4 linked regions of the Homo sapiens genome follow. The protein of the gene in region 2 interacts with the protein of the main gene of each other region in a pairwise test. Each region holds a gene or a part of one and is shown on either strand. Other genes may lie near its edges.

Region 1 (7,655 bases), on a different chromosome or scaffold from region 2:
CTCCTTGCCTGTAGCTTGCACACGAGCTATTTCCAGCTCTCTGCATTTCTCCCTGTAATGATGATGACTGATGCAATGCAAGCAAAATGTTCTCAGATCTGAGCATTTCGAAGGATGTGTCATTACAGGAATAATTATAACTGCTTTATTGTGAGTCTCTAAACCTCTAAATACCCTTTAATAATCAATAGCTTTTTTTCCCCTGGAGGTTTTGTTGCCTGGTTTTCCAAAGAACAGTTATGTAAGGAGTGGCAGCTTGCCAGCTGGGGTTGCTGCAGGGGGAGATGGTTGCTGAGGCCCCTTTGAGCAAGTCTGCCACAGGGCCACTTTCCCTGGTCTCTGAGGTTCCGTTTCTCATCGGCTCCACCACTGTATAAACAAAACCTGTCTTTTAACCTTTTGGGGGATGATGAATTTATAGAAATGCAGCCTAAACCCACACAAATTTGCATCCATTTTAAAGAGATCTTGAATTCTACTTAGTAGGCCCAAGCTGAAAGCCTGGCCCAGAGGATCAAACCTCAAAGACTGGCCACACACTATGCACATTCCACAAGGTCCCCACACTGGATAGGACCTTAGAGGTCATCTTTCTAGCTCTACTTCCAAGGTGTACAGATGGGGAAGCTGGGGCCTGGAAGGGGCAGAGAGCTGGGACTCGAGCTCCATCTCCCCCTCTCCTGTCTGCAGCACCCCGAATCTGCTTCTTCTGTGCACCGCCATAGGGCCTTTCAATAACCCCCCACCTCTGTGACCTGATGAGTCTCACCACCACATGACACTGCAACAAAAGTCAGTTCTACATCTTACTCTGACAAAATGCTCTCTTGTGAGCTGAAACAGATTCTTTACCTCAGTAGGAGGATTTCAGAACAACCCCTTTGACTGACCCTCTTCCAAAGATGCCTCTTGGTTACATTAGTTTTATTCCTGTGGTTAAAACTCCTTGTGATGCCAGGTGCGGTGGCTCAAGCCTGTAATCCCATGGGAGGCCGAGGCAGGTGGAGCACCTGAGGTTGGGAGTTCAAGACCAGCCTGACCAACATGGAGAAACCCTATCTCTACTAAAAATAAAAAAATTAGCTGGGCATGGTGGTGCATGCCTGTAATCCCATGCTGCCTGTAATTACATGCATGCCTGTAATCGGGAGGCTGAGGCAGGAGAATTGCTTGAACCCGGGAGGTGGAGGTTGTGGTGAGCTGAGATTGCATCATTGCACTCCAGCCTGGGCAACAAGAGCAAAACTCCGTCTCAAAACAAGCAAACAAACAACAACAACAAAAAAACTCCTTGTGAGAGAAAGGGCGGACAGCATCCATTATAGTTTTCAATGTCCTTTCATTCTAATTTACTCATTACTTATTGAGCATGTTATTAATGTGTACTTAAGACTTTGGGTAACATATGGATTATATACGACATATATTTTTGCATCTTCTTCTGATATCAATAGGAAGATTGTTCTTATGAGGAGTTTAAATACTTTACAAAATAAGTATAATTTAAATATTATTTTTGGCCGGGCATGATGGCTAATGCCTGTAATCCCAACACTTTGGGAGGCCGAGGTGGGCAGATCACTTGAGGTTAGGAGTTTGAGACCAGCCTGGCCAACATGGCGAAACCCCGTCTCTACTAAAAATACAAAAAATTAGCCAGGTGTGGTGGCAAGTACCTGTAATCACAGCTACTCGGGAGGCTGATGCAGGATAATTGCTTGAACATGGGAGGCAGAGGTTGCAGTAAGCCAAGATCACACCATTGCACTCTAGCTTGGGCAACAGAGCAAAAACTCCATCTCAAAAAAACAAAACAAAAACAAACAAACAAAAAATACAAAAATTAGCTGGGCATGGTGGTGCAGTCCTGTAATCCCAGCTACTTGGGAGGCTGAGGCACAAGAATGGCTTGAACCTGGGAGGCGGAGGCTGTAGTGAGCCGAGATCGCGCCACTGCACTCCAGCCTGGGTGACAGAGTGAGACTCCGTCTCAAAAAAAAAAAAAAAGAAATATGATTTTTAACAGAATATGAGGTAATTAAAAAGCAATCCAACTAAGGTGACAGTGCATCCACCTTGGGCCTGGCACTAGCTGGAAATCACTGCTCCACTTGCATTAAGCTTACCCGTGGAGAAGCCCTGGTCCCAGGATTTTAAGGGTGCTATGCGCTCAGTCTCCACAGCACCTCCTCTGGAGGCGACCTCTGCTGACACTCTCTTCATACCAACGAGGTGAATTTGCCCGGGTTACTTCCTGGTAAACTACGAAGCCACAGTGTAAGCCTAGGCCTGGGGACAGGCTAGAATGTAAGCCTAGGTCTCCCACAAGCCCGCGCTCTTAGTGCCTGGGGACACAGCCCCTGACCTCAAAGATCTGCAGAACGTGAAGGACTAGATTTTGAAATTTCACCTCATAAAATAAAATAGGTTCCAATAAGTCATTAGGTCTCAAAGACTCATTTAGCCATTAAATATAACAAGACACGTATCTCCCAAACACAATATTTTATGCCATATTGTCAAATGCATTTTCTAGTCACACCATTAATTCCAGTTTCCAGATTATTTTACTGCGATGCACCGTTGGACAGCTTGCTGAGAATTCACCTAGGACGGTGTTTGTGCATGGAAACACCTCGTTGTCCAGTTTGGAGGGGTAAGCAAAAGACGCTGGGATGAGTTCACACTGGGTTTGGTTTTATCTTAGGCATGTTGCTAGTGTATCTGAACCTCAGCTTTATCACTGGAAAAATGGCTCTGATGATACCTACCTTGTACATTTGTTTGAGGAAAAATGAGAACAAGTCTAAAGCTACCGGCACAAGCTCTCAATCAGTGGTAGTTATATGTAGCTGAAATGGGGCAATGGAGAGTCTAGACTGTTTCTATTTTAGACATTATTATCATAAATGAAAAGCTTAAAACTACAGTACATACCTTTTCTTTCAAGATGAAGGCAGTTTCCAGATGCAGAATCAGCCGATTTGAGATGCCTGTCTTGGTGACTGGCCTCTCCCAAGCTATTTTATAAGCTTCTTCAGGTCTCTGATGTTTACTTTTCATGCATGCCACGCCCGCCGCCCCCATCCAGTCAGGAGGGTTGGCCTAAAAGCTTAGTCTGTATCGAAACACAAAGATGGGATGTTGTGTCCATCCTCCTCCCCCGATTTCCTTCACAGCTGCTCCCTGAAGAAGAAATGAGATATTGTTTTCGCGCGCGCGTGTGTGTGTGTGTGTGTGTGTGTGGGTATGTGTGCGAGAGAGAGAGAGAGTATGTGTGAGAGAAAGATAAAGTATATTTTCATCCAAAACATTTTTTTTTTTGCTATGTGGATTTTCTAATTTAATTTTTTTGGTCAGAATGCACTTTTAAGTTCCAGCAGGACGTGTTGCAACATGTTTTCAAACATCTGGTATTTATTTTTCATTTTTGTGTAAATGAAAAATCAACAAGCTCATTTCCTGAAGTGGAACATGGAGTTCCTGACTCCACTAATGGGAGTCAGGTAATGGCGCGAGGGTTATGAGTCAAAGCTGGCTTTCTCCAGGATCCTGGGCAGCCCCCTAACTTCTCTGAGCCACAGTCTCCTCGTTGTAAGTAGGGGCTGTCATTCTTTCTCCACCAGAGCCAGACGTGTAGGGGAGATACCAGTTCTCTAACAACTGGGGCTAAAAGTTGAGAATGCAGAAGACATCTTCTGTCGCTCTGTTCTCTGTCCCTTTTATGACCCTTGCAGCGAGAAGTTCAAGACAGTCTGTCACTGCTTGGGGGTGGGGGCCGGGGTGGTGGGGAGTGTGGACTTAAACCCAGGGGTGCTTTTGGTCCAGCCTTATCTCTCCTGGTGGAATGAACAACTTTGACTCTTGTGAGTGAGATTCTATGTCTTTGTGATAGGCAGGAGGTATGTTTAGAGACATTTAGATAAGGCAGTGCCTTCGTAGTAGACTTAGACTCCTAAATGAAATTCATTCTAAAATATGTAAGCAACAGAGATACATTTACAGCACTGAGTCTATAAACATGAAAACAACAACACAGATCCGTAACATCCCAAACGTTGTGAGCGCTTTCTTTAAGATGTTCTTTGCCTTTTCAGAAACATAAGAAATTCCTACTACCACCCAGGGCCTGCCTCTCGCTGACCTCCTGTGCTGCCCTCCCCTAAGAGCTCTGTGTAGCTCCCTTCCCCACTCCAGGTCCCTGATCAGATGACACTTTTCCCTAAAAAGCTTCCTGACCTTTCAAAAATAGCACTCTTGTCACTGTCCCTTTCCCTGCTTCATTATATCTTTACCTGAAATTCTCTCCTTTATTTATACATTATCCTGCTTAGTATGTTTTCCCCAGGAGGATAGGAGCTTGAGGCGTGCCAGGAGTTTGTCTCTTTGACTCTGTGTTGTGCCCCAGTGGCTAAGCACATACTAAGTGCTCAGTAAATACTTATAAATTAAATGGATGCTATCCAAAGAACTTAATGAGTTTCTAAGATATACAAAAGGCCCCAGAGGTAATATTCACGCGATTTTGATTTCAATTGTATTTCTGGAGAAGCACTAGCCTGTATGTTTCTGTCTTCTTCACCTGTATCACATTTGCCACCAAGAATTGCCTGTCATTGAAGAAATACACAGTTAGCCTCTTTTCAGCCTATTACAAAAAATTCTCTCTCCTCTAAGCAGTTGCACAGTTTTCCACAAAGCACTGTTGCCTAAGTTTCCAAATATGTATGTTGGAGTTGGAGATATCTATGTATTTTAGCCCTCAGCACTGAAGTCGGCAACCATGGAGCTGAAGGTCCAGGTCTAGGAGTCACAGCGGGAGAAAAGCCACACGATCTTCCTAGGTCTCAGTTCATTTTTTCTGTAAATATTGGTAAGTGATATATTCCTTAGGGAAATCCTCTCTTCACATGTTTCTGGAATGTATAGCCAGTAACAAATTCTTAAGCAGCATAAAACAAATCAGACCTATCTTCTAAGCAAGTGTTTATTTTTAAGTCCCAAAATAAATACACATTTGTTCAAAACAATTAAAATAGCACCAAAATGCAGGACTCAGGAAATGTAAGCACCTCATAATCCCACACCTCAGAGATAAGCATTATTTTGTTTGTAATTATTCCTCTAGATCTTTCTATACAGATCCCTATGTAATAATAACAATATTCAATGTTCTGAAACTTTTTTTTTTTTTTGAGACCGACCTTCACTCACTCTGTCACCCAGGCTGGAGTGCAGTGGTGCAATCTTGGTTCACTGCAACCTCAGCCTCCCTGGTTCAAGTGATTCTCCTGCCTCTGCCTCCCGAGTAGCTGGGATTACAGGCGCCCGCCACCACACCCAAGTGATTTTTGTATTTTTAGTAGAGACGGAGTTTCACCATGTTGGCCAGACTGGTCTCAAACTCCTGACCTCAGGTGATCCACCCGCCTCGGCCTCCCAAAGTGTTGGGATTACAGGCATGAGCCACCGCCACTGCGCCCAGCCAAGAAACTTGTTTTTTAATGTAACAATGTATCTATCTTTCTATATCAGTACACATAGATCTACCTCATTCTTTCACCTGCTGCAAAATCTTGCTTTTACCTGAGAGCACATTTCTTTTTTTCCTTTCTTTTTTTTTTTTTGAGACAGAATCTCGCTCTCGCCCAGGCTGGAGTGGTGCAGTGGCCGGATCTCGGCTCACTGCAAACTCTGCCTCCCAGGTTCATGCCATTCTCCTGCCTCAGCCTCCTGAGTAGCTGGGACTACGGGGGCCTGCCACCATGCCCGGCTAATTTTTTTTTTTTTTTAGTAGAGACGGGGTTTCACCGTGTTATCCAGGATGGTCTCGATCTCCTGACCTCGTGATCTGCCCGCCTCGGCCTCCCAAAGTGCTGGATTACAGGCGACAGCGCATTTCTTGAAGAGACAGTCTGTGGTCTGTGGTTTTTCCGGAAAGCAGTTCTTTGTTGGGTGATGATCTTTCATCATGGAGGTGATTGCCTCAGTGGTTTCACTCTCAGACCCGCAGGGAAGATGCAGTTATTTGAATGGACTCTTTGTGGCAAGAAATAGAGAACTATCTCATCTCCTAAAAAAACATGTTTCTGGATGAAGAATTCTTTATTTCTTAATAAGTGGTTCTTTCAACTACCAGAGTCATCCTGTATGCCTTTCTAAAGTGATTTTTCTTTTGTCAGTTAGAATAAAGGGGACGCACAAATGTACTTTTCGTGTGAAAATGCAGACTGAGAGGTTTCAGTAGTGCACCTTCACTCTTTAAGACTCGGCTCAAATGTCCCCCTCCCTGGGTCATCTTCTGGATTCCTAGCCCACCCCACGCAGCGTTCTCCCATCTGCTTTGTGTTTTCATGGCACATGTCACCCTGTCCTCACTCATTACACTATGCTTATGCCTCCATCTCCTTCTGGAGACGGTCAGATCCACCCAAGTAGGATTGTCTTTTTATCCCTGGCACCTTACATGATGCCTGACACGTAAGTGTTTACTAAATATTCCGTGAATGATGGAATGAATAATAGAATATGCTAGATTCTCAGTCCTTGCTGGGCTTGTTATAGACCTCATTATTCATTCAGAGGCCCTCTTTCCTCTCCCTCCTGTGCCCTGGTGGCCATTTCCCTTCTCACTGGGCTCTGGAACTAGTTGAAAGTTTAATGGTGCCAAGCATCTGGTCAACAGGAAGACAGCAATCAAACTGGTGAAAACAGCAGCTTGATATGGCATGCAGGGAAGAACACTGGACTGGGGGCAGGAGGCCTGGGTTCTGGTCCTAGCTCTGTTACTAATTTATTTATCCATTCATTCACGCATTCAACAACATATAGCAACACTACGTTGCTGTATGTATACACACACACACACACACACACACACACACACACACACACGGGGGTGCGGGGCACTGTTCTGAGTCCTGCAGATATAGTGGTAAAGAAGAAAGACAATGTCTCAGCCCTTGTGGGACTTACCTCCCAGAGGCGAGATAGACAGACAGACAGGAAAAATACCTAATTAGAGTGGGTTGAGGAGGGAGAGTACCTATTTTTCCTGTCTATCTGTGTGACTCTCCTCTGGGAGGTTAGAAAAGAGAATAGGATGACGTGATAGGAAGTGAAGGGTGCCCACTTCGGTCTGGTGGTCAGGAAGAGTCTCTTTGAATACTGACATTTCAGCTGAGATGTGAGTGATGAATGGGAACCAGTCATTCAAACACCAAAGGAAGAGTGTTCCAGGAAGAACTGCCAGTGCAGGGGTCCTAAGGTGGGAACAGACATTAAGTTTTTAAGAAATGGAGAGACCAGTTTGGCTGGAGCAGAGGTGAGGAGGAAGTGAGTGTGGAGAGGTAGACAGAAACCAGAATCTATCTTGCTTTGAGGACCTTGAATTTTATTTCAAGTACAGTAGGAGTCATGGGAAGGTTTTAGGCAAGAGCATGACATGGTTATTTGGGCTTGACTATCAAGAATGGAGAATAAAATGGTTACAGATGGATCAGCTGAGGAGCCCCTGTGGTCATTTGGGAAATAGTTTGATGGTGGTTTGGGCTAGAGTGATTAGCATACAGATGGAGAGAAGTGGGCAAATTTGGAATGTGCTTTGGAGATAAAGTGGACAAGACTTGCTGATGGGCCGCAGGTGGAAGATGAGG
Region 2 (7,499 bases):
AATTAAAAAGGAACGAACTACTGATACATGTAACACCTTGGGTGACTTTCTAGGTAATTATTCTGATTTTTAAAAAAAGCAATCCCCAGAAGTCACATATGTATGGTTATGGATACACAATATTCTTGAAATGACAAAAATCATAGAAAGAACAAATTAATGGCTGTCAAAGGTTAGGGATGGGTCAAAGGGAGAAGGTAGTTGTGGCCATAAAAGGGCTACATGAGGTATCTTCGTGATAATGGAAAGGTTCTATAACTTTACTGTTTTAATATCAATATCTTGGTTGTGATATTATAATACAGTTTTGCAAGGTGTAACCACTGGGAGAAAGTGGGTGAAGCCTACACAGTATCTCTCTGTATTTCTTACAACTGAAGTGAATCTACAATTACCTCAATTAAAATGTCAATTAAATATAAAAGGGTCACTGCCGTTGAATGTTTTTGTCTCTAAAATTCATGTGGAAGCTTAATCCCCAATCTAACAGTATTAAGAAGTAAGGCCTTTTAAGAGGTGATTGAGTCATGAGGATTCTGCCATTAATGGATTAATGTGTTAACAGATTATCACAGGAGAGTTAGTTATCACAAGAGTGGGTCTGTCATAAAAGCTAGTTTGGCTCTTTCTCTTATGCCTCTCTTGTCCTGTGATGCCTTCCACCATGCTATGGTGCATCAAGAAGGCTCTCACCAGATGCCAGCACCATGCTTTTGTACTTTTGAGCCTCCAGAACTGTAAGACATAAGTTTCTTTTCTTTATAAATTACCCAGTCTGTGGTATTCTGTGATAGCAACACAAAATGGACTAAGAAAATAAAAATTTCTAAAAAAAAATTAAAAATACCATTCACAATAGCACTAATCAAAAATAAAATAGGTATAAACCTAACAAAATACACGCACAAACTATATGCTGAAAACTACAAAACATCAATGAAAGAAATTTAAAAATCTAAATAAATGAAGAGATATGTCATGTTCATGGGTTGGAAAAGTAAATATTGTTAAGATGTCCAACTTTCCCCAAATCGTTTTATAGATTCAATTAAATTCTACTAAAAAATCCAAGTACAATTATCTGTAGATATTAACAAGATTATTCTAAATTTAAACAAAAAGGAAAAGTAATTAGAATAGCATAAACAAATTTTGAAAAAGAACAAAGTTAGATGATTCTCACTACCTGCTTCGAAGATTTACTATAAAGCTGCAATCAACAATGTGTGGTACCTGTGAAGGGACACACACATCAGTGGAGCAGAACAGAATCCAGAAACAGACACACAAATGTAGTCAATTGATTTTTGACAAAGGTGCAAACGTAATTCAATGGCAAAATGACAATCTTTTCAAGACACGGTGCAGGGAAAATTGCACAACATATACCAGAAAAAAAGGATTATAGATAAAAATGTAAAACCTAAAACTTTAAAACTTCTAGGAGGTTCCATAAAAAGAAGAAAAATGGTAAATTTTGTATCATCAAAATGAACTTTTGCTCTGTTTAAGACACTATTGATAAAATAAACTACAGACAGGAAGAAAACATTTGCAAATCACATATTTGCCAAAGAGCTTTCATTTGGCAAACATAAAACCTCTCAAAGCTTAATAATAATAAAACAACCCAGTATTTTTTAAATGGGCAAACTTCACAAAGAACATGAATATATTATTAAAAGGCACAGGAAAAGATAATTAACAACTTCAGTCATGAGGGGAACTCAAAACCACAATGAGATAGTGCTACACACCTATTAGAATGGCTGAAATAAAAGAAAAATTGACAACGCCACACTCTGAAGATACAATATGAGTTCCCATCTGTGGAGCTCTCACACATTGCTGGTGGTAATGCAACATGGCACATCCACTCTGGAAAATTGTGCATCTATCAAAACTGTGCATCTATCAAAACTATGCATCTGTCAAAACTTACAGTATTGTATACTAAAAAGAATAAATTGGCCGCGCGCGGTGGCTCATGCCTGTAATCCCAATACTTCGGGAGGCCAAGGCAGGTGGATCGCTTGAGCCCAGGAGTTCGAGCCCAACCTGGGCAACATGGCGAAACCCCGTCTCTACTAAAAATACAAAAAAATTAGCCAGGAGTGGCGGCATGCACCTGTAATCCCAGCTACTCGGGAGGCTGAGGCGGGAGAGTCACTTGAACCTAGGAGATGGAGGTTGCAGTGAGCCGAGATCACGCCAGTGCACTCTAACCTGGGCGACAGAGTGAGACTCCATTTCAAGAGAAAAAAAAAAAAAGGAATAAATTTTAGTGTATGTGGATGAAGAATTTATAAAAACCATATGTTCATATTGAATTTTTTGTTTTTTTAACAGAAGTATATATATGACTGAAAAGTCAAATATCAAAATACTAACATCAGTATCTCTAAGTGATATCCGTAATTTTAAAATAAGTTTTAAAGAATATGATTTTTTCTGATATCTGACTACATACGTATGAACACACATATACATATATACTGTAGTCTCTCTATGTTCCTGTATGTACTAAAGTTCCAAAATAAATACCATCCTGAAGCACTAAAATGCTAAGATGCAAGGAAAATTAGGGAGAATTAAGATGGACTATATTTTCTTCCCTGTATTTCTATTGTTTCCTGTATTTGCACAAATTTTCTATAATAAGTATGTATCGCTTTTGAAATTAATTTTTAAAATTATAACACAACCTGACAGACCTAAATATAAGACAATGTGAGTGCACTAATGCATTGTCTGACTTTTCAGAATTCCATGCTTCTGTCTTACATCTTGTTCAATTCCACAATGGATCTGATCAAGTGGTGTCTCACTTTCCAAGAAAGCTCTGCTTCCACCGCACTCAGAAGGGCTACCCTGCAGGTGAGGCATGGGCCCTTTAACTGTCTAACTACAGACTGCACAAGAGAGCTATGTTGTATAGAATCCTAAGCAGTAAGATTTTTCCAAGCACGCTTGGATCACATGAACATCTGATTCAATGTGGAAAATTGTACTGTTGTTCTTGCTTCCCCCAGAAACATGACATTTCAGAGGAACACACAGAAACAAATGAAAACCCTCAAGAGCAGTTACCAATTTTGCCAAATGTTATACCAGACATGGGGGAATGGCAGGAATGGGAAAAGAAGTGACCTCAACTAGTGGTCAGATGACTTTCTGTAATTTCAATACCATTTGCAACTAAGAGGGAATGGGTGATTATATCATCAACTATTTCCCCCACTCTAACAAAACCAGGCCCCTATTTTATGCCTGATCCAAAAGAAACATGCAAAGAAGGTGAAGAGGATTCTATGCAAAGCATTATTCTCACAATTCTTCCTCCAGGTTAGGAAAAAACATTATTTGAGCCTTCAAGTTTATATGCATATTTTAGGGTCAAGTCTGAGTCTCCTGAAGAAAAAAATTGCAATTTTACACTCTCTGTATAATATCCAAAACCCCAAAAAACAAAAAACAGAAAAAAATCCACCTAATTTTGTTCCCTGAGTACTCAATAAACTACTGGCCTTCACGTGGCAATGTGTGGTTTTGACTGGCAAAACTAAGTACCATAGTTACATAATGACATGCAGAATCTCTTCTCAAGGTATTTTATTTCCTATTTAAAATTAAGTCATGAACTAGAGACAAGAATATGTTTTATGATAAGTATGTAAATAAATATAAGACTAACTCAAATGCAAAATGTAGTATACTTAAGCAGCTTATTTTCCCTCTTTAACATTTTTTAAATGTCAAAAATTCTCAGCATGTCTAAAAGCAAAAATGGTATCGTCCAGGTACACTTGACTATTTCCTATTCTTTGAGCACCCCAAGCTTTTCCACATCTGAGACTTTATTTATCCTCATCTCTCTCTGGTTTTCTGAAATTCCTTTGCAATACAGATTTAGATAACAAAAAAAGTACCTAGATTATATTACCTTAAACTTCTACAAAAATGCCTTCACCTAGCCAAAATATAAGACCATGCCTTTGGCTTTCATAAAACCATCAAATAAGAAACATTAACCATAAAAATTTTTCTATATATTACACTAAAAACCAATCAAAGACATTATCTACTATGCTAACCAATGTTTTTTTTTTATTTTTATTTACAGACAGGATTTGGCTCTGTCACTCAGGCTGGAGTGCAGTGGCACTATCATAGCTCATTGCAAACTCGAACTCCTGGGCTCAAGTCATCCTCCTGCCCCAGCCCCCACATAGCTGGGACTACAGGCACATGCAAGCACCCCCAAATAATGTTTAATTTTTTGTAGTGGGAGCCTTGCTGTGATGCCCAGGCTGGTCTCGAACTCCTGGGTTTAAGCAAGCCTCCTACCATGGCCTCCCACAGTGCTGGGATTACAGGTGTGAGCCACCATACCCACCCTTAATGTTCTTTAAATAAATATCTGAGTGATAAATTACCTTGAAAAGTCAGTGCCTGGAAAGAACTGTATTTTTCCCAATAAATTGTTATACCTCCTTTCTTTCAACATAAGGACAATACAATCAAATGTGTATTGTTTTTCACCTTAGTTGCCCTGAAGATTATTTAAATTTGTTTCTCAATAGCAATAACTAACCCATCTCTCGTATCTGAAACATATCTTTCTTTTATTTTCAAATTGTAATTTCTTACATTTTTTTGTTATATCACAGTGAAAGTCAATCTGTAATATGTTTTGAAAATAGGCAGAATTCAGGCCAGGCGCGGTGGCTCACACCTGTAATCCCAGCACTTTGGGAGGCCAATGCAGACAGATCACTTGAGGTCAAGAGTTTGAGACCAGTGTGGCCAACATAGTAAAACCCTGTCTCTACTAAAAATACAAAAATTAGCCAGGTGTGGTGGCAGGTGCCTGTAATCCCAGCTACTCGGGAGGCTGAGACAGGAGAATTTCTTGAACCTGGGAGGCGGAGGTTGAAGTGAGCCAAGATCACCACTGCACTCGCCTGGGTGACAGAGTGAAACTCTGTCTCAAAAAAAAAACAAAGAAAATAGGCAGAATTCATATATTAAGACTGCTCTACAGGGTCCTACAATTAATCCATGTAAATGAAAAAACAATGCAACTTAGAGCAGCATTTATCAACCTTGAATGTGCATAGAAATCACCTGATGATCTTATTAAAATGCAGACTCTGATTCAGAAGCTCTGGGGTGGAGCTGGAGATGCCACATTTCTTACAGGCTCCCAGACAAAGTTGATCCTGCTGGTCCTCAGCCCGCACTTTGAGTAGGCAGGGCCTGAACAATATTCTGCCATGACATGAATGAAAAGCCAGTCTAGGAGGAATAATGGGTATGATACGGCCCTAAGAGAGGATGACTCTCAAAATGGCCAGTACTACAAACTAGAGCCAATGGGATTCCCAGATATGTTTCAATCTTTAAAAATCAAGATGTCTTACATCCATCATCAATATTTTAAGTTTTCTAAAAAATCCAGTTCATGGTTTTCAAAGAAGTTGATTCTGACTCATCTGTTAGACTCTACCATATACATATGAATAATGTTCTGGTTGATACATTTTTAAATTCCTATCATTTTGAATGTTTTTGGGAGGAGACAGGACAAGAAAAGAATACTCAATGAAAATTTGGGAAGAGAAAGCTTCCATTTACTTAAACATTTACTAAACACCTATTATACCCCAAATACTACTTTAAGACCTCAAAATACATTTGCCTTTTTCTTTTCATTTATTTATGTTGGTTTTATCCTAATTCTTCTTTATTATCTTTTGGGGCAATTATCATGTAACACACAGCATAATCATTTTGCTAGTGAATGAATCCACATCACTTGAAGAAAATTCATCAGCTGTGATATTGACTAAGAAAGTGTTAATATTTGAGTAACAGCTAGTTTAAATTTTCTTTCTTTCCAGCTTATTTCCAATTAAGTGTATTTCTTCTCCTGGCCTGACATGTTACTTAATGATAGTCTCTGAAATACTTCATAGTAAAGACCTAGTTTTTCCAAAGTTGTCCATGTCAGGCCTCTAAGCCGAAGCTCAGCCATTGTAACCCCTGTGACCTACACATATACATCCAGATGGCCTGCAGGAGCCAAGAAGTCTGGGGCAACCGAAAAACCACAAAAGAAGTAAAACAGCCAATTCCTGCCTTAACTGATTAACCAACATTACAACATTCCACCGTTGTGACTTGTCCCTGCCCTACCTTAACTGATCAACCGACCTTGTGACATTCTTCTTCTGGACAATAAGTCTTATGATCTCCCCACCATGTACCTTGTCACCCCCTTCTCTGCTAACAATAAATAACCACCTTTTACTGTAATTTTCCATTAGCTACCCAACTTCTATAAAGCAACCCCTTCCCCATCTCCCTTCGCTGACTCCTTTCTCAGACTCAGTCCGCCTGCACCCAGGTGAATTAAAAGCTTTATTGCTCACACAAAGCCTGTTTGGTGGTCTCTTCACACAGACACGCTTGACAGTCCAGTCTTTACAAATCCTCATATTGCCCACTGTTACACATATGTATGTCTCCTCCACATAATTTCATGGATGAAGTAGGAAAAAACTTGCATTTTTGTTAAAGCTAAAATTAACCAGTTATCTACTATACATAAAGGGCTAGCTGAGTCACTGCATTTATTTCATATAAGTACAAAAAGAGTTAAGTTTTTTTTCTAAGTCAGAGGCTTTAAAGCCAAGTATACTAGTTTTCTATTACTGTGGTAACCAATTACTATCAATTGAATGGCTTAAATGACACAAATTTATTATTTTACAATTCTGGAGGTCAGAAGTCCAAAATACACTACCATTAAGCTGTCAGCAGGTATGTGTTCCTGGAAACTCTAGGAGGAAAACCATTTTTTTGTCCTCTCCAGCTTCTAGACACCTCTCACACCCCTTGTCTCCTGGCTCCATCCTCCATCTTCAAACCCAGCATTGTCGTATCTCTCTCTGACTTTCTTCCAGTCACATCTTCCTCCAACAAGCTCTTGTCTTCTGTTTCCCTATTCCTTTTAAGGACCCTTGTAATTACATTGGGCCCAATGGGATAACTCAGGATAATTACCCTATTTTAAGGTCAATTGATTTGCAATCTTAATTCCATCTGCAACTTTAATTTCCCTTTGCCATGTAACCTAATGTATTCACAGGTTCCTGGCATGAGAATGTAAACATCTTTGGAGGCCCATTATTCTGCCTACCACACCAAGACAGTGTTCTTTTTCCATTTACTAACTTCAATTTTCCAAAAACACCTTAGTTCTCTTACAGTTTCTCAATACTAGGAAAAGAAACCATTGGAGAATAACAGTATAAGATTACTGGTAGCAACAATGTGTATTTCAGTTTTTGACCATAAGCTCTGAATCTACTGGAATGACCCTCATACCCAAGGAGAGAAATGAATACAGCCAGAATGGCCACTGCCACATAATCATCTGCTCCTGGATGCATAGAGCCTGAGATTCCTGACTCAGATCCTGGTAAACTGAAGCC
Region 3 (8,482 bases), on a different chromosome or scaffold from region 2:
TGTCAGATATATTTTCCAAATATATCCTCTCAGTCTGGCTTGCCCATTTATTTTCTAAATGGCATCTTTTAACGTATAAAAGTTTTTAACTTAGAGTTGAATTTATCATTTAATAATTTTATGGTCATTGATATGGTCATTGCCAATCTGGGTCATGATACAGAAATCTTCATCTACTTTCAAGTTGCAAAGATATTCTCCTACTTTTTTTTCTAAAAGCTTTATAATTTTGGCTTTTATGTTTACGTGTATGATGCATGACAAATTAATTTTTGTGTATAGTGTTAAGTAGGGGTCAAAGTTCAATGTTTTTCAGTTGTTTAGCACCATTTGTTGAAAAGACTTTCCGTTCCTGGTCTGATTATTTTGGCGCTTTTGTTGAAAATCAAATAACTATAAACCCCATTGATCGATTTGTTGATACTAATGCCACGCAGAGTTACATTCCAGTCCTCCAGAGCCAGTCTACAAATCACGCAGAAAAGCTGGTTGCTCTGTTTATAGTCACATGCAGCTAGCTAGTCTCCCCCCACCAAGTAAAGTGTAAATTCCTGCAGAAGAAAACCCATCTCTTCCATTTCAGTACATTCCTCACAATGCTATGCTCATACTAGGGGTCCAAACAATTACTGAATAAAACAAAGGTCAGAGTCAAGTTACAAATGATATTGTAGAAACTGTTGAAGCATAACTATGGCAAAGAAGCATTTTAATATAATTGAGAAAATGGCGGGAGAAACAGACTATTGTTTTATTTCCTTTCCAGATAGTCTATTTATGTTTAGACCTCTTTCAGTACTAATGTTACCAGTGGTGCGTGCGCACACACACACACACACATTGAACACAGAAAGAAAATAAAAATGAATGTGCATTATTAAATAGAGTGCATTGCTAAATAGTTTTTTATTTATAATTCATATAGTCTCCCCACTTCCTACAATGATGAGGATGGGTTTAGGAGGCTTTCATTTGCTAACATTGATTTTAATTATTATATATACTAAACTGTTTGTAGCTCTCTCTGCGTTTATCTTGTGATGAATTATTTTTAATGCCTACTACATATTGCATTCTAGGTGGTGAAATTCTTGAAAACTCAAACAATGGACTGAAAGTCATCCCTCTTTATCATAGGGAAGCCAAATGCTCCATTGTCCTGACACTATTTCTTACATTGAGTGACTACATAAATATATAATATTCTCACACACATATGCAAAAAGCTGAGTAGCTGACAACTCAGTCTGCTGATTGACTGTATGATTTGGCCATTTTGAGCTTTGATCTGTCCAGATATAAAATTAAGGAAAACTAGGACATTAGTTAATCAAATAGATGCCTTATCTGCAATCGGATCTGCTGCTTGAACATATTAGGTGATATTTTGCATGCTCACAACTGTAGTCTACATTTCTGTTTTCATTAGCCTACTTGATCTGAGAATGTTTGATGCTGATTTTTGTCTTCTATCCTTCATTACACAGTACTTATTTTGCTTTTAAGCTTTTTGTTCTTTTGCATGCCATAGGTAAAATCAGCCAATATTCAAGGAATGCTGCTTCTTTTGCCCAAGTCTTAGCACCATCATTTTTGCTAGTTGCATTGACTGTTTTTTAAAAACCAACTTTAAGTTACTGCAGAACCAAGCATAATGTATTCTAGGTAGTCTATAAGCCATGATTTCTTTCAGAAAAATACAATAGACAAGGTTTCCACTAAACGTAGTCTTTGTACTTTCTTTGTTTCCTCCAGGTCATTAACCTTTTCACCTATAATCATCTTAGCGATAGGATTTAGGCAACTATTATGTAATTGATCATTAGCAAAAGAGTCCTGGTGGCAAAAAAGAAATACTTTTCTTTTGAAACATATGATAAACATTTAACCTCTAGATTGATGTTTCATTTCTTAACTGATTATTAAAAGAATCTTAATTCTACCTTAAACATTTAAAAATTACACAGAGATTACATTTATTTCAGAATCAGTCTTCAAGTGGTGAAAAGTTGTTGGTGATATTCACATTCTATAATACCCAATTAAATGTTGCTTATATTTTATATTTTATTTTTGTTATATTTTATATAGCCAAGAAAATGCCTTTATTTTTTGGAGGAAGGTGGCTGAAGTATTTGGGGGTGAAGTACATGACATCTGTAATTTACTTTAAAAGCTATTATCTACCATCTATCTTTTTAATCTTTAAGCAAATGTAGCAAACTGTAAGCTGTTGATTTTATGTCATAGGTATATGTGGGTATTTGTCCTACTATTCTACTTTTCTGTATGTTTAGAATTTCCATATTAAACAGTCCACAAATCCATTCATAGTCTTTGATAAGCCAAGTCTTATGACATAATTGTCATGTTATGCTTCCTGGGTTTTTTTTTTTTTTCTCACATGCAAGATCAAAGAAGCTGCCCTCTATGTTATTTTAGGCCCTTTTCTAGGTATAAGGTCTGAATTCTTACAATTTGAAGACTTTCTACGTGCTAAGAGGGTGAAGTTTAGAAAGAATGTAAAGATAGTTAAACCTACCACTTTTCATCTAAATAATTAAATTGAGGTCAATCAAAACATGCCTAGACCAGAAAGTGTTAAGCTGCTTTAAGAACAACATATAGATTCATTTATTATTGTTCATTTCCATTCATACATGTAGAACATAGAACATAGTAGCTGCTGATGTTAGGGAACCGTTTACTTTAGAAGAACAACCTTTCCTTGGGTTAGAGGTAAACGGCAAAAGGAAAGGCATCTTAAAAAGCAAAGAGAAATAAACTGGAGAACTGAAGAAGGTATGGCCAGAATGAATTTCCTTTGCTTTTTAAGGGAAATGAAATAGCATGTACTCACTTCTCCTCAATCATTTGCTTTTGATACTCCTCATACTCCTCTCTAGTCATCCCTTGAGCTGCTGCAGGATCAGATGCACCTCCTTCTTCTTTATTTTCTTCAGACCCACCACCAAATCCTAAATTCTTTACCTGGTTACTTATCATACTTTTCATAAGGAAAGCCATTTTCTCTGCCCCAGAAAAATAAAACCAAAATTCAGACAAAAGCTGAAAAAAAAAATCCAAACAAACCCAAGAGAAAACCTCCAAATATTCTCAATGACAGCAATACATTTAAGAGCAAAGGACTTTGCACAACCTCATCTATTCAAGGGCATACTGATAGAGAAGAGTGGTTTGTCGGCCGTAAGCTGGATTAAAGTGGTGAACTCCTTAGTATATAGAGGCAGATGGTTCAGATTACCGAAGCATACAATCAGAGGCAACTGCCTACCTTCTGAATTAATACACTCAGCTAATTTCACAGGAAAAAGAAATCCCCACATCATCTACCCCTTTCTAAATTTTTAATTATAAGCACAGCAGGGCTTCATCAAGAGTCCTGTTTCAATTAAATTAATCAGAGCTGACTGATTATATAGCTGTTGTGGAATTTCCAAATTCCAGCCCTTGAGCAAAACATCCTGTTGAAAAACTGAGTCCAATGAGACTCAAAACCCAGAATGCTTCATTAAGCAAAAATAATCCTTTCGATCCATCATTTTATCTCATTGGACTTTAAGTACTATGCAAGGATTTGCTTTTTAGTTTGCTTGAATTCGGTTTGCTTCAATAGTTACTGTGTCCCGCACATAAATACACAACTGACAAATGCAAAGACCCAGACAGCAGGTCCTTGGTTTACATCTGGAAGATTATCTTAGCCTTCTCCTGCATGGAAATATTACTTGTCTATATGGAAATGATGTGCTTGACACTTCAAGGCTCTGATCCAGAAGGTAAGACCATTATGTGAGTCAAATCATCAATATGTAAGGGGTCACCTTTTTTCTCTTGCATAAAGAGTGCACCTCCTGGGTGCTCTATTTAAGCTCACTGGTGTACTTGGATGAAACTGACAATGTTTTGTATCCCACCAGATTCTCTATGGCTGTGGTTTTCTTCAGGTCAAGGGAAGAGTTGAGTATGGCTAAGACTTCAATCTACACTAGTATCTTTCTAATTAAAGCCTGCCAAAGAGGGTGGGGTGGGAAGGAAGAGATGTAATCCATTGTTATTTTATCTGAAGGCATGAGTCCTCTCAGAAACCAGGTGATTATCTCTCTGATCATATAGAATTACATAATCTGGATTCTTGCCTAAAATGCTTGCTTTATATATTTTATCGTCTGCTTTCCCTTTTAGTAATCTATTTTAAAATGCTGCTTAAATGGTCTCAATATGAAAGGCTAAAAAAGATAATTTAGGGTGAAATATAAGCTGTACTCAGGGCTTCGAGGAGAATGCCCATCAATATTGAGTTCCACTTTCTCTTTTAGATGGGTTGCTTGGAACTTAACACGTTCATACCATTATCTCTAAATTACCATTTATAATAAACTACATTGCAGTCCACTGAGGAATGTTACTAATTAATGTTGTCTCATAGAACTTTTCAAACCATAAAATAAAAGCCACAGCCTTGTGTTTCTGTCTGTTCGGTCTACATTTTATTATAAGTAATTATTTAGATTTATTATAAAATCTATTCTAAAAATTCCATTGTATGAGGAATTAGGAAATATTAATGGTGAGGGTGTCAATTCTAAACTCCAGCACCCATGTGTAAAGGAGTTTCTCCCTGTCCCGTCCTTTTCTGAATGTATGTTTGTGTGGAGGGGGTTAGGAAGAGGGGGTGTCATGCATTATGGGGACTCTTCGGTGGTAGCTTCAGCAGGGTCGCCGTGGAAGGTCTCCTGAGAGTGCTTTATGAAATCAAATATCTTATTATTTCCTCAACAGGTAATTCCATTGAGAATGAGGTCACGACTTAAAAAACTTTTTACTCCTTGATTTATTACAATGACCTTTGCCCTTGGACATCCAGGAACTACTAGCTGGTGTGTAGGATCTTTTTTTTTGGAGACAGCCTCACTGTGTTGCCCAGGCTGTAGTGCAGTGGCAGGATCTCAGCTCTCTGCAACCTCCGCCTCCTGGGTTCAAGCGAGTCTCCTGCCTTAGTCTCCCGAGTACCTAGGATTACAGGCATGCGCCACCATGCCCGGCTAAGCTTTTGTATTTTTGGTAGAGACAGGGTTTTGCCATATTGGCCAGGCTGGTCTTGAACTCCTGACCTCAAGTGATCTGCCTGCCTCAGTTTCTCAAAGTGGTGGGATTATAAGTGTGAGCCACCAAGCCTGGCTGTAGAATCTTGTAGAAATGGTGGTAGAATCTTCCGTTCCTTCAGAAAGGGGAAATGAATGCCCTGGATTCATGAATGGGACCTCTAGGTGTCCCCATCCCATGGCTCCCTACTGTCCTTGCATAGAATCCCCACTCCTTGCTGCAAGATTGCCCACTGCCTAGCTGCCAGCCTCTTCAGCCACACTCCCTTTGCTCATTCTAATCACATTCATGTCCTTGTTGGCCCTTAAACCAAGATTGCTCCCACCTATGTCCTTGTGGAACCTCCTGGCCTGTATTGCTCTTCCACATCTCTAGGTGGCTCACCCTTGCTTAATTCAGGTTTCTGTTCTCATTCACCTTCTTAGAGGGACTTCCCTGACCATCCTAAGATACCCTGCCTCCACTACCCCACCTTTTAATCCTCTATCCTATTCTATTTTTCTTCATAGTACTGCACTCTACCTGAAAGTATATTTTCCTTGATTTAGTTGTTTCCTTTCCATCTACTCCATTGGAATGTAAGCTCCATAAGAGAGACCAGTGCAATTTTGTTCACCTTTGCATCCCCATCTCTGAGAATCATGCTCAGCACATAGTAAGTGATCAATAAGAATCTTGGGGGAAAACAATGAATGAATGATTGCCACTAGGCCTAATGGCTTATTTTTGAGCAAATCGCTTTCAATGGAAGTAATCAAGGTACTACATCGGATGATGGAGGCACTTGGAGAGTTATCTTCAGGCAAAAGGGAGACAGGAGAATAGGGTCTGGGGGCAGGGAACCTAAGGCCAATTCATGCTGACTTCCTAGAACTAAATTAAAAGGAAAACCCCAACTTTCCACACCTAAGTAACAAAAGGACTGGAAGCTACTTCCTTACTCCCTTTGCAACTCCCGGCCCCCCACCCCCACCCCGACCCCCACCCCCACCCCCACCAACTTTTTCTACGTGGCAGATGGAAAATTCAAAGTATCTCTGATTGGCTGCTTTCTGCAGCCAATCAGACATTTGGATAGGAGTGTAACTTTGTAACTTCACTTCAGCCTCTAATTGGTTGCTTTCCACAACCAATCAGATACTTGCATAGGGTGTAACCTTTGTAACTTCACTTCAGTCTCTGATTGTTTGCTTTCCGCAACCAATCAGACTGATTGCAGGCCACTACTTCATTTACATAGGGTGTGCACCAAGTAACCAATGGGAAACCTCTAGAGGGTATTTAAACCCCAGAAAATTCTGCAAAGGGGCTCTTGAGCCCCTATGGTGGGGCCGCTTCCAGTCTGTGGAGTCTACTTTTGTTTTCCATAAATCTCTGCTTTTGTTGCTTCATTCTTTCCTGGCTTTGTTTGTGCGTTTTGTCTAATTCCTTGTTCAAAATGCCAAGAACCTGGACACCCTCCACCAATAACAGAAGTAGCATCTTAGTGCTTACAAATCCACCTCATAGTGGTTGCTGCCTTCTTTGCCAGCTCCCAGGATCAAGACTACTTGCCATAGTTTTTTAAAATCATGCCTCATTCTGATTTAATGGATCACCTTTGTAAACACAGATTCGTTGTGGCCTATTCAACTTGAAAATTTTGATGGTATCTGACCCAAAGAATTTGCTAAAGAAGCAATAATCCCATTAGTGGAATTAAATTTTAGAAAGAGATCACATTCAAACAGCATAAATCCATTTTGGTCCTTCACCTGGGATTTTTCTTTTCACATCAAATACCTAAATTTTGCTCCTGTAATTAAAATCGGCTAGTGGTATCATTTCTTTTTTGACCTTCCCCAAGGAAATCATGGTGATTAGGTTGTCCTGTCTCAGTTGTTATATCCTCTTAGCGGGTGACACAACATTTCAGGGGTAACCATGCAGCTAAACCTCTGTGCTCATGAAGGTCAGCAGAACTGAAGAAGAAAAAGGTCACCAAGCGCCAAGGCATGTGTCACCACACTTGGCTAATTGGCTAAGTGTAGAAATGATCTAAAGATGAGATTCACTGGGATTAATTTTCAACCTCTATTTTAACTGGGAAAAAAGAGGTAATATAAAAAGAGGAAAAAGTCTTGGGAAATAGAAGGACCATTACGGAAACCACAAAGGAAATTAAACACGTAGTCCTAATCCTAATAACTGCCTACTGGAGACATTTTAGTGGTTTGTGTTTTACCTAATAGAGTGTCATGTACATCATAGATGCTTAATACATATTTAATGAACTGTATTGAAATGCCAGGCCAAGTAGCATGTTTGTTTTCATTTCTATAGGATTGGTTAATATTCTTGTAGATACAAACTCAAGGCTATATACCAGCTGTGCAAAGAAATTCCCCAATCATGACAGTATGGTTTTCATTGAGCTACAGAACCAAAGAGTCTCTTCAGTACTACCTTGGCCCATTGTTATCTGATAGATTGTGAGACCATTTGTGACTCTGTGGAGACTCAAAGCATCTCAATCCTTTGTCTCCCAAAGTGGCCATTTTAAGAAATGTATCCCGGGCTGATTCTTCTGTCTTCCAGAAATATTCAGCAGTGTTATACCGAACGTTTCAAAATCTGTGTGTGAGTGTGTGTGTGTGTGTGTGTGTGTGTGTGTGTGACAGGGTCTCACTCTGTCACCCAAGCTGGAGTGCGTAACCATGGCTCATTATAGCCTTGACCTCCTGGGCTCAAGCGATCCTCCTGCCTCTGCCTCCTGAACAGCTGAGACTACAGGCATGCACCATCACACCTGGCTAATTTTTTATTTTTTGTAGAGATGAAGTCTTGCTATGTTGCCCAGGCTGGTCTCAAACTCATGGGCTCAAGTGATCCTCCCACCTTGGCTTCCCAAAGTGCTGGGATTACAGGTGTGAGCCACCATGCCTAGCCCCTAAAGTATTTCTTTTGCCAACACTGTATGACTGGTCTATTTCAGTTCACAGACATCACTTTCTGGTGAGGTAATAACTGTATTCTATTCCGTATCCTCTCTACCACAGAACTTCCATGTTGGTCGAGTGCTGAGTTGGTAGGCAATTCAGTGGTTGTTATTTTCTAACAGGACATGCTGGCTTCCATGATCTGATTGTAAATTGCCATGCTGGTTCTACATGGAAGGGGAAGATGGGCTGGGAACCAAAGATTAATTTTCTAACTTACTGTTTACACAGTGGGCTGACCAGTTTGAGCTGAGCTATGTTCATGCCTGGAATTCAGGTATATTTGGCAAATTGTAACATTCGTGGCATGGCTAGCAATAAGTCTATTTGCATTAAGTACTAAGGAGGCTCTTAGGAGAGACTCATCCAGAGCAGAC
Region 4 (7,499 bases), on a different chromosome or scaffold from region 2:
AAGAATGTTTAAGTTGGAGGTGGCAACGTGAATTGCAAACAGGGCCTGCTTCAGTGACTGTGTGCCTGTAGTCCCAGCTACTCGGGAGTCTGTGTGAGGCCAGGGGTGCCAGCGCACCAGCTAGATGCTCTGTAACTTCTAGGCCCCATTTTCCCCTCTGAAAATAAGAGGGTTGGATCAAACGATCTCTGGGGCCTTAGCATCTCAAATCCTGTGGATCCTCCTACTTACCCCTTAGAGAGCCTTACTGGGAAGTCAGTCATTAATGATGTGGCCAGTTATTTGCAAGTGGTAAGAGCCTATTTACCATAAATAATACTAAGAACCAACTCAAGTCAAACCTTAATGCCATTGTTATTGTGAATTAGGATTAAGTAGTAATTTTCAAAATTCACATTAACTTGATTTTAAAATCAGTTTTGTGAGTCATTTACCACAAGCTAAATGTGTACACTATGATAAAAACAACCATTGTATTCCTGTTTTTCTAAACAGTCCTAATTTCTAACACTGTATATATCCTTCGACATCAATGAACTTTGTTTTCTTTTACTCCAGTAATAAAGTAGGCACAGATCTGTCCACAACAAACTTGCCCTCTCATGCCTTGCCTCTCACCATGCTCTGCTCCAGGTCAGCCCCCTTTTGGCCTGTTTGTTTTGTCAAAAACCTAATCTGCTTCTTGCTTTTCTTGGTAATATATATTTAGGGAAGATGTTGCTTTGCCCACACACGAAGCAAAGTAAATAAAGACCACAAATGTTCAAATTCTAAGCCACTTAATAGCGTTTTGTACATTAAAAATGACAAGGGTTATTATACAAGTAGCCTTTTAAAAAATTCTCACACAGAACAGCTTTGTATTTAGACTTAAAGCTGTTGCTACTTTGCTAGTGACGTTTGTGTTAACAGTCAGTGCTCTAGGCCATTGATTGATTGATTGTCAGAATCAGAAGTGACTACACAAGAGCATTAGCCAGACTTTTCAGTGAGAACAGGTAACAGGCTGGCACCAGCACTTGGTACAGCACGTGGACAGGACGACGGAACCCAGAGTTCTCTGTCTCTCCTTCACAGCAGATGGACTCTTCTATAGGTGGCTGTTAATTTACACAAAGTTATATTCCAGAATCAGGAAGCCCCGCTGTCGCCAACACTTGAAGGAGAACTATGTTCCAGTTTTGGTGTTGAACTTCTCACGAAATACCTACTACCAAAAATTGTGACACCTTATTAGACACTTCCAAAGTACCCCCCAAAAGCTGTTTAAAAGACCATTCCATTTTTTCCTACACAAAGTGCATACTAAAATTTCACAATAATCATCTTCAGATGTACATTTTATTTAGTACATTTCACAGTTTTCAGTATTCAGTCCCTCATGAACATTTTATAGTCATCTCTTCGGCCCTGTTGTGAAATATGTGATTCCAGTTCAATTCAGAGTGTATGATTCCGCTTTTCACGCTGATCAAGTAAATTTATGGTGTCTCTTTTCTGATCTTCAACATTAAAAACTAAAAAGGAAAAACACATAATATTCTATAGAGTATTAAATGAGATACTAGCCCTAGGCAGGTCCCATTTTCTTATCAACTTCTAGAAACTGTCATAAAGAGGACTGCATCTCCCACAGCAACACTGTAATTGGGAGTTGTATTCCTCATCAAGGACAAGATGGCAACGGTGATATGGGAGGGGGACAGGGAAGTGCTGGGTAGAGAAGGGCAGGGTCACTGGCAAGGGCTCCACCCTCAGGCTTGTGCCCATGGACCTAATGAGAACAAGGACTCCTGTCTTCTTGCCCAAATGTTGCATTTTCCAAGACCACTCTGGCCTGCCATGCCACCCATTCTGTGCCTATAAAAACCCTGAGACCCCAGCGGGCACACACACAAGCGGCTGGACGTCAAGAGGAACACACTGGCAGAAGAACACATCGAAAGACGCTGGCAGGCCATTGATGGTGGAACGATTCGGACGCCAAGGGAAATTCGGCCAAGGACAGTAGGAGATCCCGGCTGCTGAGCAGCCAGACTCCAGAGGAAGACTACCTTCCCATGCTATCCCCCTTCTGGCTCCCCAGCCATCTGCTGAGAGCTACTTCCACCACTCAATAAATCTTGCATTCATTCTCCAAGCCCACATGATCTGATTTTTTCAGTACACTAGGGCAAGAACCTGGGATACAGAAAGCCCTCTGTCCTTGCGATAAGGCAGAGGGTCTAATTGAACTGATTAACACAAGCTGCCTGTGGACAGCTAAGCTGAAAGAACGCACTGCAACACACACCCAGTGGGGCTCCAGGAGCTGTAACCACTCAACCCTAGATGCTGCCGCGGGGTTGAAACCCATCCTCCCCACAACCTGTCCGTCCGCATGCTTCCCCTAGGGGTTTGAGCTGTGGGGCACTGAAGAAGAAAGCCATACCCCCATTGCATGCCCTGTGAAGGGGATAAGGGAACTTTTTTTTTTTTTTTTTTTTTTTTGAGACGGAGTCTGGCTCTATCACCCAGGCTGGAGTGCAGTCGTGCGATCTCAGCTCACTGCAAGCTCCACCTCCGGGGTTCACGCCATTCTCCCGCCTAAGCTTCCCGAGTAGCTGGGACTACAGGCGCCCGCCACCACGCCCGGCTGATTTCTTTTTGTTGTTGTAGTTTTAGTAGAGGCGGGTTTTCACCCTGTTAGCCAGGATGATCTCGATCTCCTGACCTCGTGATCCGCCCGCCTTGGCCTCCCAAAGTGCTGGGATTACAAGCGTGAGCAACCACGCCCAGCTGGAACTCCTCCCCTTTCAAAGTGTCCAAATGGATGACCAACAATGTGCCATGAAACAAAGCTGAAGCACCTAAAGATTCCATACTTGTTTGTAACAGTGACATAATGCCCCATATGCCATAGAAAATGGACAGTATCAAGTGCACTCATGACATTTTAAATATAATCACCACGCTCCTGTGCGGCGTGACTCCCTTGCTACTGCACTTCTAATGGCACACGCTGCCTCCTGAGAGCTGTCTGCAGCTTCAGACAGCTCTTGTGACTCCAAAGCTCTCCCTTTACAGAGCTGATGTCTGTATGTAGCTTCTACCATCTGATCTTACTCTATCCTTTTAACACACAGAAAACATAAAAAGGCACATCACAAATAAAACCTAAAACCACGGTCTTGATTTATAACTATGGCACATTAAATGGTAGTTTAATGACCATTAAATACCTGCCATATTAAATTAACGGTATCTGTTAAAGGCTCTTAATAAAGTTGGAGCTAATGCTTTTTTCTTCTAATTTCCCTGGAGCAAGTAAGGTCTCACTGTTTCAATGACACAATCTTAAAATAATGTTGAAGCTGATGTTGACATTTCTTCAGCTTCTTCAAAGAGCTGACAAGGCACTCATTTTCTTTACCTTACCTACTTACTTTGTTTAAAACCTTGCACAAGGTCAAGTCCTTAGGACACCTGAGTGTAGGGAATGAGAGATCCAAAAAGGCTTCACCGCAAAGCCCATCATTTAGTAGGAAACTAGGCCCAATTTAAAAGGTGGTTAGAGCCGGGGTGGTGGCTCACACCTGTAATCCCAACACTTTGGGAGGCTGAGGCAGGCAGATCACCTGAGGTCAGGATTTCGAGACCAGCCTAGTGGACATGGTGAAACTCTGTCTGTACTGAAAATACAAAATTAGCTGGGCATGGTGGCATGAGCCTGTAATCCCAGCTCCCAGCTACTCAGGAGGCTGAGGCAGGAGAATCACTTAAACCCAGGAGGCGGAGACTGCTGTGAGCCAGGATTGTGCCATTGCACTCCAGCCTGGGCAAGAAGAGTGAGACTCTGTCTCAAAAAAAAAAAAAAAAAAAAAAAAGAATAGAAGTAAGACAGTGACCAGACCGTGAAACATGCTCAAGAACATAAATGAGTGGAGTCAATGACAACAGAGAGTTTGTATTTGCTTCAAAGTCTGGCTGCTAGTGTATTTTGCCATTTGCCTTTTTAAAAAATTGCCTAAATGAAGACAGCTGAAAATTCAAATTAGGACTTGGATTCTAAAAATTCCAAACAACTCTGCCAATTGAAACAACTGACATCCTGGAGAAATATAAAAGATAATTTTTAGGGGGACATTGTTGAAAAATCAGACAAGCACAGATTGAGGGACTTTCAACCAAATAACTGAGCCACTACCCTTCAAAAAAGACCAACAACATAAATGATAAACTGCTCCACGATAAAGAACACTAAAGAGGTCTGACAATAAATGCAGTGTATAATCCTGAACCCAGAAAAAAAGACATGAATTGGACACTCACTAAATTTCAACAAAGTCTACAGATTAGATAATAGCATTGTATAAACATTAATTTCCTTATTTTGGTAATTTTACTGTGGTTATATAAGATGTTAACATTTGGGGAACCTGGGTGAAGGGTATACAGAAATTTTTTGCTTTTTAAAGAAGTCTAGATTATTTCAAAATGAAAAGGTAAAAAAAATGTAAGTATTAAAACATTAAATGAATAATGCATTGCCCAGATGGTAATAAAAGAAGGTATTGTTAGCCAGACGTGGTGGCTTACGCCACCCAGCACTTTGGGAGGCCAAGGCAGGCGGATCATGAGGTCAGGAGATGGAGACCATCCTGGCCAATATGGTGAAACCCCGTCTCTAATAAAAATACAAATATTAGCTGGACGTGGTGGCGTGCGCCTCTAATCTCAGCTGCTCGGGAGGCTGAAGCAGGAGAATCGCTTGAACCCGGGAGGCAGAGGTTGCAGTGAGCCGAGATCGCACTACTGCACTCCAGCCTGGGCAACAGAGTGAGACTCCATCTGAGGAAGAAAAAAAAAAAGGGCATCGGCAGGATCAGCAAGGCCGAAACTGAAGTGAAGTAGTTGTTACAACGACTCCTGCTGCCCTGAGGATTTCTGCTGAATTCTGAAGTTTATGATGATATTTTAAAAGCAGTTACCCTCAGAGAAGATGGGGAAGTAATTCATAGTCATGAAAACTGTTAAAAAGGAAAGAAATCAAGCATTTATCCTATCTACCTTATACAAACAATACCACTGAGGTTTTTTTTTTTTTTTTTTTTTTTTTCCCCGAGACGGAGTTTCACTCTTCTTGCCCAGGCTGGAGTGCAATGTCACAATCTCGGCTCACTGCAACCTCTGCCTCCCGAGTTCACGCGATTCTCCTGTCTCAGCCTCCCAAGTAGCTGGGATTACAGGCATGTGCCACCACGCCTGGCTAATTTTCTTGTATTTAGTAGAGACGGGGTTTCACCATGTTAGTTAGGCTGGTCTCAAACTCCTGACCTCAGGTGATCCACCATCCTCGGCCTCCCAAAGTGCTGGGTTACAGGTGTTAGCCACCACGCCCAGCTGAAGTGTCTATTTCTAAGAACATTCCAATTAACAAATAACATAAAAATGAATTGATACAGGCATTGACCATCAACTGGCATCACAAAAAGAAAGACGCCAGGTTGCAGTCAGCCAAGATCGCGCCACTGCACTTCAGCAAGGGTGACAGAGCGAGACTCCATCTCAAAAAAAAAAAAAAAAAAAAAAAAAGACGCCAGACATGACGTGCCTCCCGATGAAAGAACCAAAGAACACACCACCACTCACCTTACCGAGGGCTTGAGCCAGGACCTGAGTCTCATCAAGTCTCTGGGTATAGCTGCCACTCTACAGAAAACAGAGACCAGGCGAACTCACTCAACTCCCCCATGACTCTATAATCAGCAGTATTCAGGCTGTGGGAAACTACAGTCACATGGCTTGGATTCTTTTGTTGTTGTTGTTGAGATGGATTTTCACTCTTGTTGCCCAGGCTGGAGTGCAGCGGTGCGATCTCAGCTCACTGCAACCTCTGCCTCCCGGGTTCAAGCGATTCTCTTGCCTCAGCCTCCCGAGTAGCTGGGACTACAGGCGCCCACCACCACGCCTGGCTAATTTTTTCTCTTTTTAGTAGAGACGGGGTTTCACCGTGTTAGCCAGGATGGTCTCAATCTCTTGACCCGCTGATCTGCCTGCCTTGGTCTCCCAAAGCGCTGGGATTACAGGTGTGAGCCACCACACTTGGCCCAGAAAAATGAATTTTAAGAAAGAATACTATGAGTCCATAGTGATACCAAAACAAACAAGTGTGTTGGAGGAGGGAGAGGAGTTCCTTAAAAAATGTCAGGTAATAAATGTGCTGTGATGGCAGCATGTAAAATGTCACCACTTGGGCAATGTTCATCAATGGATGGTAAAGCTACACAAGTTCAAAGCATCCTCTTCTAGATGACGTATTAATATCAAAAGGAAAATGGCCTTCTGAGACCTTGTGGGCACCATGTTAGCTAAGGGATCAACCAATCACCTGTAGGACCACCTGCTGTTATGCCTCCTGGGGAGAAGCAAGAATTCATCAGCCTGAATCCACCACAAGCAAACAGACAAGGCCAGAGTTTGATACATTCTACAAGATACTGGCCTGGACTCTTCAAAAATTCAAAATAATAATACAAAGGGCAGCTTTCATAGCTGCTTGGAAGCTCTATGCACATACTGGGGCTTCTCATCTGGGAGGCAGACTGATCAAGTAGTGACCTAGCCATTTTGTTGGGAAATCCCTAAATGTCACTGAAAAATCATCCTACTTAAAGAGTTGAGCCACACTGAATATGTTTCTAGAAACGATGCAGACTTTCCGAATGGTTTTCATCACCTTGGGCTTCTCAACCCTCACTTCCCTCCACTGCCCCTGGTTTAAAAGCTCCTAAAGAACAGACGATCTCCTTGAAATGACCCATTAATTACAATATAATTTTGGGGATTCATTGGATAATCACGGTGAAGGACCAGGAAAGAGAAATGAAAGGTGACCTCGTCACCGATGTAGGCCCCATTCTTACCATCTATGTTTCTGTCATTCCCTGCCAGGGCTGCTTGCTTGTCTGTCTCAGATTCTGCTTCATTTTCATCCATGTTGTAGTCATCTTCTCCTCTCAGTTTCTGCTGGTTTCTCCCTGTAAAATTAGCACATAAAACATAAGCTACATCATTTCTGTCTTGATGTCACAGGACTATCAGAGCACAAGTGCTGGGGGTTAGCCATACTTGCTCACAATCAGATCTGTCTGCTGCCTCTCTGGAAATGGTAGGGACGCAAGGGCTGGCTTCCAGGACAAGCACATGCATTATGTGTACTCCACTTGGACTCGGAATCTACAGACAGCATGGCCCTAAATACAAGGGTGCATTCTAGGCAGAACATGGAGAAACTAACAACCCAAATCTCAATTTTTTAAAGAGATAATCAACTCAAGATAAAAGAAAGGTGCCACTGTTTTAGGAAGGAACGGATATCTACAGCTAATGACAGCATCTCCTTAGAATGGAGAGAGGAAATGGAGCTGCCACTGTGAGACACGTGAGAAGGTGTCCCTCATACTTAGAGCATGAGAGCACCCATTACTCTATTCTTCCCTGGAGTGGGCAGCAGCCAG

Evidence for each region.
Region 1: the proteins of AIG1 (region 2) and APOD interact in binary tests that used the Homo sapiens proteins (3 or more experiments, as listed by UniProt).
Region 3: the proteins of AIG1 (region 2) and CPLX4 interact in binary tests that used the Homo sapiens proteins (3 or more experiments, as listed by UniProt).
Region 4: the proteins of AIG1 (region 2) and GOLM1 interact in binary tests that used the Homo sapiens proteins (3 or more experiments, as listed by UniProt).

What each region holds. Positions count from the first base shown.
Region 1 is NC_000003.12:195,580,941-195,588,595, forward strand, and holds the start of APOD (apolipoprotein D precursor), read right to left. Parts: upstream 3,001-7,655; 5' UTR 2,938-3,000; intron 1-2,937. UniProt on the Homo sapiens protein: APOD occurs in the macromolecular complex with lecithin-cholesterol acyltransferase. It is probably involved in the transport and binding of bilin. Appears to be able to transport a variety of ligands in a number of different contexts.
Region 2 is NC_000006.12:143,063,787-143,071,285, reverse strand, and holds part of AIG1 (androgen-induced gene 1 protein), read right to left. Parts: intron 1-7,499. UniProt on the Homo sapiens protein: Hydrolyzes bioactive fatty-acid esters of hydroxy-fatty acids (FAHFAs), but not other major classes of lipids. Show a preference for FAHFAs with branching distal from the carboxylate head group of the lipids.
Region 3 is NC_000018.10:59,315,436-59,323,917, forward strand, and holds the start of CPLX4 (complexin-4), read right to left. Parts: upstream 3,215-8,482; 5' UTR 3,028-3,214; coding exon 2,861-3,027; intron 1-2,860.
Region 4 is NC_000009.12:86,026,377-86,033,875, forward strand, and holds part of GOLM1 (Golgi membrane protein 1), read right to left. Parts: intron 7,020-7,499; coding exon 6,906-7,019; intron 1,518-6,905; coding exon 1,441-1,517; 3' UTR 1-1,440.